Linked DNA regions of Homo sapiens. The protein of the gene in region 2 interacts with the protein of the main gene of each other region in a pairwise test. Each region holds a gene or a part of one and is shown on either strand. Other genes may lie near its edges.

What was found.
Region 1: the proteins of CYP4F11 (region 2) and MESD interact in binary tests that used the Homo sapiens proteins (3 or more experiments, as listed by UniProt).

What each region holds. Positions count from the first base shown.
Region 1 is NC_000015.10:80,975,076-80,979,936, forward strand, and holds the end of MESD (LRP chaperone MESD precursor), read right to left. Parts: intron 4,403-4,861; coding exon 4,144-4,402; 3' UTR 677-4,143; downstream 1-676. UniProt on the Homo sapiens protein: Chaperone specifically assisting the folding of beta-propeller/EGF modules within the family of low-density lipoprotein receptors (LDLRs).
Region 2 is NC_000019.10:15,917,298-15,924,590, forward strand, and holds part of CYP4F11 (cytochrome P450 4F11), read right to left. Parts: intron 6,786-7,293; coding exon 6,515-6,785; intron 5,134-6,514; coding exon 5,067-5,133; intron 4,870-5,066; coding exon 4,740-4,869; intron 1-4,739. UniProt on the Homo sapiens protein: A cytochrome P450 monooxygenase involved in the metabolism of various endogenous substrates, including fatty acids and their oxygenated derivatives (oxylipins).

The DNA.
Region 1 (4,861 bases), on a different chromosome or scaffold from region 2:
CATGTGTAAGAAGAGCTGAAAGGTAGAGCTGGGCGTGGTGACTCACAACTTAATACCAGTGAATCGGAGGCCGAGGCAGGAGGATTGCTTGAGGACCAGCCCAGGCAACATGGTGAGACACCTCCATTTCTCCAAAAAAAAAAAACAAAAAAAAAAAAACCTAGCCAGGCATAGTGGTGCATGCTTGTAGTCCTAGCTACTCGGGAGGCTGAGGCAAGAGGATGGCTTGAACTCAGGAGTTTGAGGCTGCAGTGAGCTATGAACACACCACTGCACTCTAGCCTGAGTGAGACAGCAAGAGACCCTGTCTCTTAAAAAACAAACAAACAAACAAAAAACTTCCAGGGAAAAAAGCAAGGCTCAGAAATGTCCTACCCTGCATGCTCTTGTCCAAGCATAAAGGCGGACACTGTGGGTGCAGAAGGTGGATATTATGTATCTTGTCAGTATACAAACACTATTAAACAATAATCAGGGACACAGGAAAAAGTTTGTGAGTTCCTTTCCCTTGTTCAGTGGTTAATGCATACTAAGTTGGTTTAATTTAAAAAAAAAAAAGAGGTTTAACAGTATAAGGGAAACCACCAGAAGTACAAAAGCCACAGTATCACCATCAAAACCAGAAAGCCTGAGGATGAAGAAGGAAAGATGTGTATATCTGATACAGGTTTCATAATTGATAGTCAAAAGATATCATCCAAATTTATTAGATCACTAGATATTAAAACAAACAAGACAAAAAGGAAGACAAATTCATTAAAAACAGGACATTTCTCCCAGCTATTTGGGAGGCTGTGGTGGGAAGATCAATTGAGCCGGTAGGTAGAGACTTCAGTGAGCCGTGATCCTACTGCACTCTAGTGAGGGCAACAGAGTGAGACCCTGTCTCAAAAACAAAAACAAATGACATTTCTCTTAAAAAATTTTTGTTTCGTTTTTTTGAGACAGAGTCTCATCCCGTCATCCAGGCTGGAGTGCAGTGGCCTGATCTTGGCTCACTGCAACCTCCGCCTCCCGGGTTCAAGCCATTCTCCTGCCTCAGCCACCTGAGTAGCTGGGATTACAGGCCCGCACCACCACACTCGGCTAATTTTTAGTAGAGACAGGGCTTCACCATGTTGGCCAGGCTGGTCTCAAACTCCTGACCTCAACTGATCCACCCACCTCGGCCTCCCAAAGTACTGGGATTACAGGCGTGAGCCACTGTACCCAGCCCAACATTTCTTTTGCTCATGAATCTGCAGACTGGGCAGACTGTTTCTCAGCTCAGCTTATGTTGGCTCCCCTCAGTGTCAACTAGGATTGCTTGAAGGCTGGGGCTGGAAATGTTTAAATCTTATCCACATGTCTGTGCCTGGGCTGGGAAGACTCATGCAGCTGGGGTTGGAGCAGGTGGGCCTCCTGGGTATCCCTCTCTCTACGTGAAACACTGTACGCAGCCTCTCCAGTATGGTGGCTTCAGGGTAGCCAATTAAGATATGGTTTTACAATCTATTAAACTGGTAAATGTGATGCCCAAGGCTGGCAAGGATAGATCTATTGTTGGCAAGGGTAAGCTGACTAAACCACTTGGGAGGGCAATTTGGCAATACACACCAAAATGTTAAATTCCGTTTGCTCTAATAATTCTACTGCTAGGAATTTACCTTTCAGATATAAACAAAAGTGTACCGAAATATTTTGTATGAAAATGTCCACTGCAGCACTGAATATACCAGCAAAAAATCTGAACACTCAAGTGTCCATCAGCAGGGACTATGCAGTGAAACAGTGGTTCAAACCTCACCATCACCCTGCTGATGTAGGACACCTTCAGCTATGGCCTGCACTACTGAAGCACCTCCCAGCTCACGGCTCACACCTGCTGGGGTCCTCTTCTGATCACTTCTCCTGTGCAACCAGTGCAACCTGGACTGCCTTTCACACCCACCCCATCACAATTAAGATCCACCAGGGCGTCCCAAACTCCTACCAAACTCCATGTGCTACGCTCCTCCAACCTGGGCCTGCACTGGGCCCCAGCCTCCCCGCTGGCCTTCCTGCTGCCTCTCCCTCTGCCACTTCTAGCCACAGGGTCTTAGCTCAGACTGTTTCCTCTGCCTGCCTTACTCTATTTCTCCTCTCCTCCTCTTGCCCTCAGAGAAGGCCTCTGGTTTTCTTAACCTGGTCAGGGAAGATTCTACCTCCCCCTACCCTGCCCCTTTCATACTTCTAACAGCTGCCATTTTACTTTGTACATTACTGACATTTGTCTTCCCCCACCGAATCATTGAGTTTTACGATAGCAGAGGCTGTATCTACACCGTCCTGGCACCTTGTAGTACCTAGTACATAACAGACACACAGAAACTACTGGGTGAAGTGGGGGCACACTGCACAGGAAACAATGAGACAGATCTGCACATTCTGACATGGGAAGGCTCCTAAGTGGAAACAGAAGGTACAGGGCGGAGTGAAAGCTTTGCTACCTTTTGCTTAATTAAAGCAATTATCTCATCAAAACAGCTGCTTTATACTGGGCCATTATGGCTATGCAGGACAGTAACCCCATCAAACTGCCCTGAGTACAACAGAAAAAGCCCACAGACAGGGCTTGGTTCAGCCACGGCATGATTCAGGGACTCGTTTATGCCACCAGGGTGTGGCGCTCTCTCCCCACTGTCAGACAGTTCTCTTCTCCAAGGGCGGGGCCTACAACAGCTCCCGCTCCAGGTTCAAGATGCAGGAGGAACAAGAAAAGCCTCTTTCAGGGCCTAGTACCCTAGTACGGTAGATCACACAGGCCTCACCCTGGAGAGGGCATGGCCTGGAGGGTGGGGGGACTGCAGGGCAAATGTCCCATCCAAAGCAGAGAACTGAGAATGCAGAGGGTGTGGTTCTTTCGAGGGAAATGTGAGCAGCTACCAAATTAAGGGGAAACAGATGCTGTGAGGCCAAAACAAACATACATCACCATAAGTACATTTACATAAGTAAATGTACTTTTTTTTGGTGGATGGGCAGGGAGGGGGATGTGGGGGCACAAATTGTTAACAGCAGCTTCCACTGGGACAAGCTACCACCGGCGGCAAGAGAGGGATACACTTTTCACTTTGTACCATTCTTTAACACTGACATTTTCTAACCATGTAATGTGCTACTTTTAATTTATTAAAATCACAATTGAGGGTTTTTCCCAAAGAATTTTAGTTCTTAGAAATGACATCTGTATATAAATGTTCTAACTCTTATTCACAGTAGGCTCTAACATGAACGGCAAAATCAGACATCAACAGTAGCACATCATGTTACTCTATACGAAAGCACAGATTTAGGCACTTTATCAAAGAAAAATGTTTAGAAACAAATGAGGTTATTGAGTCGTCTGTCACACTCTGCAAAGGACTCTGATTCCCTACTTAAATCCTTTAAAACTGTCACATTAAATGGAACATATAACCCCTCGACACCAGCAGTACTCTTTCCTAAATAAGGAAACAAAACAGAACCCCTAACTTTACAGACCACATAAAACCTGACAGACACCAAGAGTTCTCTTACTGATGAGTAAGATTCAAGTCAAAGAAATTCAAAACTACTTAGGATTTCAAGTGACATATTTTCTATTCTCCGCATTTCCTGCATAGATTTTGGATTTACACACCCTGGCTTCCTGGCTACAGACATCTGAGTTCACAAAGCATATTTTACCTTTAACATAATGAAAATGATGTATATGGCATGAAGAGTTTACTCAATTAAGTCAAGAGTTTTAAAGTCTTCTCTGATCAGAATTTGCTATCTGATCAGAGCAGGCCACCCAATCACAGCAGGTGCTTGGAGGGGAGTGGAATCTCAGTAGAGTTGATGACTCACCAAGTGTAAATGGGAAAAAGCAACACAGTCACATTTCCATGTAAGGAGATTTTATAGTAAACATGAATTTGTCAGTGTCCAGTATTAATTAGAAAACATCTGTCTTCTTACTTGAAGCCTATTAAGCAGTAATTCTTTGACCACAAACTGGTCATGTGGCAGACCCTTTCTAGAAGACACTAGAATGTCATCCGGTGTGCAGTTGCCTGAGACCACTCCCACCCCAGGAGCTGGGCAAAGAGCTCTCCACGTCCACCTGTCCCCCCACAGCGCGTCACTGCTGCCCCATCACAGGTCTTCTCTTTTATTCCCAGCTCGATTTTCTTCCTTGGAAGACCGAGATTTCAGATCTCCTTCCTTCTTTTTTTTGCCCTTGTCTTGCTTTGTTTTATTTTTCTCTTTGCTTCCTCCTCCTTTGCCGGGGTACACCTGGCCCTCCAGAGTTACATCAGCACACCTGTCTTGACCGACCAAAAAGTCCTTGATCTCCCAGGCGTAGCTCCCATCGCGAAGCATGAAGATAGCACGGTCTGATCCCACAATGAACCTTGGGCAGAGAGATGCAATCAGTCAGCCAGCACGTACTAGTAAGGTGCTAAGGGGTCAGAGCAATTCTCTGGCACTTATCAGTTTATTTCAAATTCTACATGAATATGGAATGAAAAATTGGATTTTCCAAAGCCTAGCAGCTACTGATATCTCATGTATTAAAATACTAGCTTGCTGAACTATTAAACATCCAGCTCAGATCAAAATAGAAACAGACACTGGATGTTCCTTTGTTGTATAAATGGATGCCCGTGTTAAAAGTGAACATTTGGAAAACCTCCCTAGGACACTGCAGAGGTGGCTCAGGGGCTGCTGCTGGGGAGGTAAAGAGGCAGCTTCGATCTGATCTGTATCTGTTTTATATTCTAGAGTGTCCAGTTACACTTTTATGGGACAAAAGACTTCTGCTGATAAAGGTGGAAAACCAATGGCTTAGAGTGGGTCATGATAAGAGGCT
Region 2 (7,293 bases):
TAAAAGGTTACATATTGAGTACAGTGTACACTGTTTAGGAGACAGGTGCACTCATCCATGTAACCAAAAACCACCTGTACCCCACCCCCAAATTACTGAAATAAAAACAGAAGAGAAAGTCATTCTACCAGACATTAAGACCTATTACTGAGTTACAGTAACAAATGTAGCATGGCAAAGCTGCAAGAACAGAAAAACAGACCAAAGAATGGAATAGGGAGCTCAGAGACAGATATGTGAATAAGTGAAAACCCACATCTGGTAAAGGAAGCCCCACAAAACCCTGGGAAATGGATGGATAGTACAGCTACAAAAGAAAATGTGGACAAAATTGGCTTCATATAAACTAACCAAAAGTGTCCCCAAGAAGTCAAAAGGCAACAAAAGACAGAAAAAAAGATTTATTTTAACACATAGTCTCATAAGTAAATATGGGAAAATAACCCAAAGGAAAACAGCAATGTAAGATGATCTCTTCCACAAAAAGAAAAAAAATGGCAAGAGATGTTCTATCCCACTCTTATTTAAGGAAACGTTCACTAAAAGAAGAAATATGCAGACTGACAAAAATTTAGTGTGGTGAGTCCTCAAAGATCTAGGGGCAGAAATACCATTTGACCCAGAAATCCCATTACTGGGTATAGATCCAAATGAATATAAATCATTCTGTTATAAAGATATATGCATGCATATGTTCATTGCAGCACTATTCAGAATAGTGAAGACAAGGAATCAACCCAAATGCCCATCAGTGATAATCCAGACAAAGAAAATGTGGTTCATATACACCATGGAATACTATGCAGCCATAAAAATGAACAAGATCATGTCCTTTGCAGGAACATGGATGGAGCTGGAAGCCGTTATTCTCAGCAAACTAATGCAGGAACAGAAAACCAAACACCACATGTCCTCACTTACAAGTGGGAGCCGAACAAGGGAAACTCATGGACACATGGTGGGGAACAACACACTCTGGGGCCTGTCACAGGGAGGGGTTGGGGAGGTGAGAGCATCGGGAAGAATAGCTAATGGATGCTGGGCTTAATACCAAGGCGATGGGTTGATAGGTGCAGCAAACCACTATGGCACACGTTTACCTATGTAACCAACCTGCATAGCCTGAAACTTAAAATAAAAGTTGAAAAAAATAATAATAATAATGTAATACTCTTGGCGAAGTTATGGGAAAGCTGTTGCCATCAAACTCAGCTAATAGGAATAGATTTTTTATTATTATTAAAATTGTGGAGTAAAATGGCCTTTTATTCTGCAATTGCACTTTTGGGAATTTGTCCTGCAGAGATATTCACACAAATAAGCAATGGTCACTGTACACACATGCTGACTGCAACAGGTTTAATTTAGCAAAAGTCTGAAACAAGCTAAATATACATTGATGGAAAGAGGTTTAGATAAACATCCACACAACAGAATGCTAGTACCATAGAATACAATGCAACTACAAAAAAGGAGGAAACAGGTCACTAGCTGTGTCACACAATGCAGGCTGGAAGGTAAATCAGTACAGAGATTCTGGAAGGCAAATTGGCCATATCTACAATAACTGGAAAGATACACAAGTGCTTTCAACAAAGGTGTGAAACAAATAAAATATGGAATGTTATGCCATGCTAAAAAAAAAAAAAACAGCTGTAAGACACACTGTCGAGTGGCAAAAATAAGCCACAAAATGCATACATGTAAATAGCAAAGGGCAAAATACATAGTATATATATATATGAAATACATATTTCTATGTATATGGAAATATACACATTTCATTGACTCCTAATTATTAAATTAAATAAACATATTAATAACATTATAATTTAATAATTAGGAATATATATAGTATATATGGAAATATATATTTCTATGTATATGAAATATATACATTTCATTGACTCCTAATTATTAAATTAAATAAATATGTTAATAAATTTAATATATATTAAAATATATAAATATGTATATATTTCATTGACTCCTATTTATATAAATAAAATACATAGTATATATATGGAAATAGATGATATAGATAGATCGATGGATGGATAGATAGATAGATAGATAGACAAGAAGGATGAATAGATAGGATAAAGGATGGATGGACGGATGGATGGATGGATGGATGGATGGATGGATGGATGGATGAACGGATGGACAGATGTATAGATAGATAGATAGATAGATAGATAGATAGATAGATAGATAGATAGATAGACAGATAGATAAGCAGACAGTTAGATGACAAATTGATGTCTCAAGAGACCCCTTTAGGGAAAGCGAGGATATTAGGTGGGGTGGTGGGAATGTCAAGGTTAAACCCTGTCTTATCTGTAGTGTCGCATTGAGTCCAAGAAGAATCTGTTCTCATCATTGCTTTTGGAAGTCAACACTCATTTTCCATGTATAAATGCAAAATAGAATGGTACTCAGTCTTTAAAATGAAAAGAATCCTGTCGTTGGTGACAATATGGATGATTCTGGAGGACATTATGCTAAGTGAAATAAGCCAGGCACAAGAAGACAAATAGCAAATGATCTCAATTACCTGTGAGAGCTAAAATAGGTTACATAGAAATCACAGAGACAGAAGAAAATGGTGGTTGCCAGAGGAGGGAGGAAGAAAGAACAGGAAGATGTTGGTCAAAGGGTACAAGTTTCCATTAGACGGGAGGAAAAAGTTTTGAGATCTATTATATGCATGGTGACTACAGTTAATAATAATAGATTATGTTTTCCAAAACGGCTAAAAGAGAAAATTTCAAATGTTCTCACTGCTAAAATAATAAGTATATGAGGTAATGGATATGACCATCAGGTGGATTTAATCATTCTGCATTGTGTACATCATAACATCACAGTGTACCCCATAAATATATATAATCAAAATTTGTCAATTAAAAATAAAGACAAATTAAAAAACAAACTCATTTTCTAAAACTCATATTTTGAGAAAAACAGAAGATGGTAAAGATACATTGTTAGTGGGCAGACCTGTGTCTATTTTATGTACTCCTACTCACACAGAAAAAGAGAGCATGTGTTCATATACAGTGGGCATCAGGATAGCCATTTTCTAGGACACACAGAAAACCATTGATGATGGAAACTGCCAGAGTGAGGAGTGTGAGGCTTAAGAAGGAAGCTCATTTTTTATCAAAATTTTTGGACACTTTTTTAAACAATGTGTAATTTTGCTTGAAATCTTGGTTTTAAAAGCATAAAAATGTTTCTCCACCTTACAGGACCCTGTGCTGAGCAAAGGCTTGGATGTAAGGGCACTACCTTCAAAAGGCCTGTCCAGCTCAATGTCTCCTCTCCATCCCCAGCTCCTGGCCTGGCTCAGACCTCAGAATGTCCTTCCCTGGGACTTCCTTCTACAACTGGTCCTCTCCAGTATGCCCTCTACACTAGCCCTAAAAAGATTCTCCTGCTACCTGTCTCTTCCCATTGCCCTTGAGTTAAAATTGAAGTTCTTGACTTTTTTTTCCATGTATTCCACACCCAGGCTCTGCTGCCATCTCCAGGTTCATCATCTCATCATGACTCAGTTTCTCCCTCTCTATTCATCTCTCTGTTTCTGTCTTCCCTCTCTCTTTCTTTCTCTCTTGCTTTCCTTCTCTCTCCATTCTCTTTTTATGACCTTCTCCCTCCCCCTGCACACAAGCCACTTCTCTCTTTCCCTCTTTTCTTTCTCTTCTCTCTCTCTGTTTCTCTCACTCTTGGTCTCTCTCTCTCTCTCTTTCTGTCTCTCTCTCTCTCTCTCTCTCTCTCTCTCTCTCTCTCTCTCTCTCTCTCCCTCTCTCTCTCACTCCCTCTCTCCTCCCTCGACCTTTGCCTAGGCTCTCTTCTTGACCTAGAGCCCTACTGCATCCAAATATCTACTGATCATTATTAAGGATCTCAACTGAGACACCTCACTTTTATTTTCATCTATTCATGTCTTTTAGAGAAAAATTCTCACTATGTTGTCCAGGCTCATCTTGAAGTACTGGCCTCAAGTGATCCTCCCACCTCAGCCTCCTGAGTGGCTGGGATTACAGGTGCCAGCCACTGTGGCCGGGTGAGACACTTTCTGTACCTCCAGTCATGCTTCTCTTGTTCTCAGCCTCATCCCTGCCCATGTGGGCTGGGAGTTTCCTGTCCTGGGACTGTTCCCCCACCAGGCTGGGAGCACCTGGAAAACAGATCGCAGGGCTGGATTCTTCCAAGCTCTCCAGAGCACCGAAAGGTGCTAGATACAAAACTGGGGATAGGAATACAGTGTAGGAGCATTTGCTGAATGAAGACTGGATGGATGAACAATGCAGGTGTTCTGGATAGGAATGAATGACTTTTACCCTCAGGTCTCTCTTATAAATCCCTGGACTGTACAACAGGATTGAAATTAGGGTAAGGAAGAGCAAACATTCAGAAAGTGAAGATGTTTGAAAAAACATGATAATTCAGTGAAAAGAGGAGGTGGAGGAGAAATTCATTTGCTGAACACATGCTAAGTGGCATCATCTGCCTTCACATGCTGTCACAAATTCTCCCAGCAGCCCAGGTCCCAAAAGCCTGCAAACCATCCCCTGCTGGCCTGGCTGTGTATTAAGCCCTGCCTCTGAGATTTGCACCGATTCCCACTAAGCGATAATGGAAGAATTGACCAAAAAAACTCCCTCCCTCTGCCCACCTGAGGAGCAGAACCAATGACAAAAGATCAGGAACAGGCCAGCACCTGCACTCACCATTCAATCTCTATAGGTTCACGGTCCTTCAGAAGCTCTTGCACTTCTTGCCGGCACTGTTCCTGGTATTCTGGGTGCTTTGCAAGGTGGTATAGGACCCAGGAGAGACCACTGGCTGTAGTGTCATGGCCTGAGGGGCAGCCAAGCAAAACTGGGTTTCTGGGCTGCTTCAGCACCAGAGGGAGGAGAGCACCCAAACTCTGAGGCCCTCAGGAGAATGTAGGGAGGAGGAGGATGGGCAGAATTAAGTGATCCAGGGTCCACCCACTACGTTCCTGGGATGGAGAGGCCCCTGTCCCCACCGTAGTCCCACACTGAGACCCTCACCCTCAAACATGAAGGTGTCAGCTTCTGCTCTTATGTCCTCATCAGACAATTCCTTCCCATCTTCATCCTGGAGAGAAGGCAAGACAATATCCCTGCCCCAAATCACACCAGCTCTGAAGGCTCTTGAGTCAAACCTAAGATAATTTCTGAAGATCCATCCTCCTTCCAGAAACCCAAGCCCATCATGCACTCCTAGATGTCTCTTGGTCACCACCATCAGAGCCCACCACCCACAGGCTTCCCGCTGGCTTCTTCACCTCCTATTTGGCCCTGCTGGGAAGAGTCAATGACCTATGGATATTTTCTTGTTTCGAATAATGAGGACTTTTGGAGTAAAGCATTAACTGGCAACCTGGGTTACAGCATATTTCAATGGCAATTTCACTTGGAGGTTAGAAATTAAGTATTGGCTGGGCGTAATGGCTCACGCCTATAATCCCAACACTTTGGAAGGCCGAGGCAGGTGGGTCACCTGAGGTCGGGAGTTCGCAACCAGCCTGACCAACATGGAGAAACCCCGTCCCTACTAAAAAAAAAATTAGCCTGGCATGGTGTTGCATGCCTGTAATCCCAGCTCTTCAGGAGGCTGAGGCAGGAGAATCACTTGAACCCGGGAGGCAGAGGTTGCAGTGAGCCAAGATCACACCATTGCACTCCAGCCTAGGCAACAAGAGTGAAACTCTGTCTCAAAAAAAATGAAAGAAAGAAAGAACTGAAGTATTACTCTGAATGTATTTGCTCACATTCTAGAGTGGTAAACTCAGAGAATACTTCTTATCTTTCCAGAAGGCATCTGGGTTATAAACCTATAAACCTACAGGCATGTCGATCTCACTGGAAAGGAGTAGTTTTTATTCCAGAACAAAGCAAACATCCTCTCTCTCTCTCTCTCTCTCTCTCTCTCTCTCTCTCTCTCTTTCTCATTCCCACTCTCGCCCTGGAAGGAAGAAGGGGCAGATGTGCTAGCTAGCTATCCTATATAAGCCCCAAGATGTATACTGTGGGGCCCCTCTCTGCAGTGCATTCTGGTGTATTTACAGGTAAAAACATTGCATTACCCTAGAAGGAATATGGGAATAGAGAGCCAGCTCTACAATCCTACTCTGGTTGCTGCTATTGCTGTGAATGATGAATAGGCTGCTGTGATCCAGGGATTTGGTGCATCTGTCATCATAGATATAGACATAGATAGATATGCATAAAAATATGTCAGCCTAACTTGCTAACATGTAAGTAGAGTAAAATCTCAGGCTCCTCACTATTTCAAACTTAGCAGTCCCCTGCCAGCTGAATTCCACAGAGTCATCTCTCAAACCTATCTCTGACCTGTCTTTTTCAAGCATGTTCCATGGCTCCCAGTGCCCTTTGGATCAAGTCCAAGTTCTTTCATTTGACAGAGGCATAAATCTCCACTCTATTACTTGAATTCACATCCCAGAGAAGCCTACCTTGCTCAGCAGAAGCACATCAATGAAGTCTAAAGTCTTGGACTTTGCCTTGTTCTTGAGGAAATCATCAATACCCTGAGTGGGGAGGGTGCAGCGCCGCTCCTGGATGACGGCATCTGTGAAGTCGTGCACCAGGTGGCAGGCCCTGCGGAAGCGCTGCCCATCAGGAGTGAGATAATACAGGAAGTCCGTGTGCAAGAGAATCTGCTGGTTTCTCTTTTCTACAAAGGCACTGAGCTCCAAGATGGCGGCAATATATTCACTGGGCTTCCTGCATGAAGGAGGTAACAACTTAACATATGCAAAGTCCCAGGAGCACCTCTCACCAGCAGCTAGAAGCTACTGCCCATCAGGAAATTGAGTATCCAGAAACAGCCAGGAGACTTGACTCTCCAAACTCTCTTCTCTGAGGCATTCCATCTCTGAGAGCTGCCTCCATGCACCAAGGTACCCAGAGCATAGCTTGGACACCATGCTTCTCTCCCGTCTCTCCCACCCAGTATCCAGCCTGCACTCTTTTCCTTCCAAAAACTGTTCACAAAACTCAGACCTCACTGTCTTCCAGCTCTTTCTGACCCAGCCCCCACCATAACAGACTTGCATTCAATGTCTGCTCCATGTAGCGTCTACATGACAGGCAGACCTCCACAGAGCTCAGCTGTGACCACATCTGTCATCGGCCCAACCCTCTTCAAAAGATTCCTGGGAACCTCCTGATAAAGTTCATGCCACTTTTCCTGATTTTCAATGTCCTGAAATCTATCCCCTGTCTACTTCCA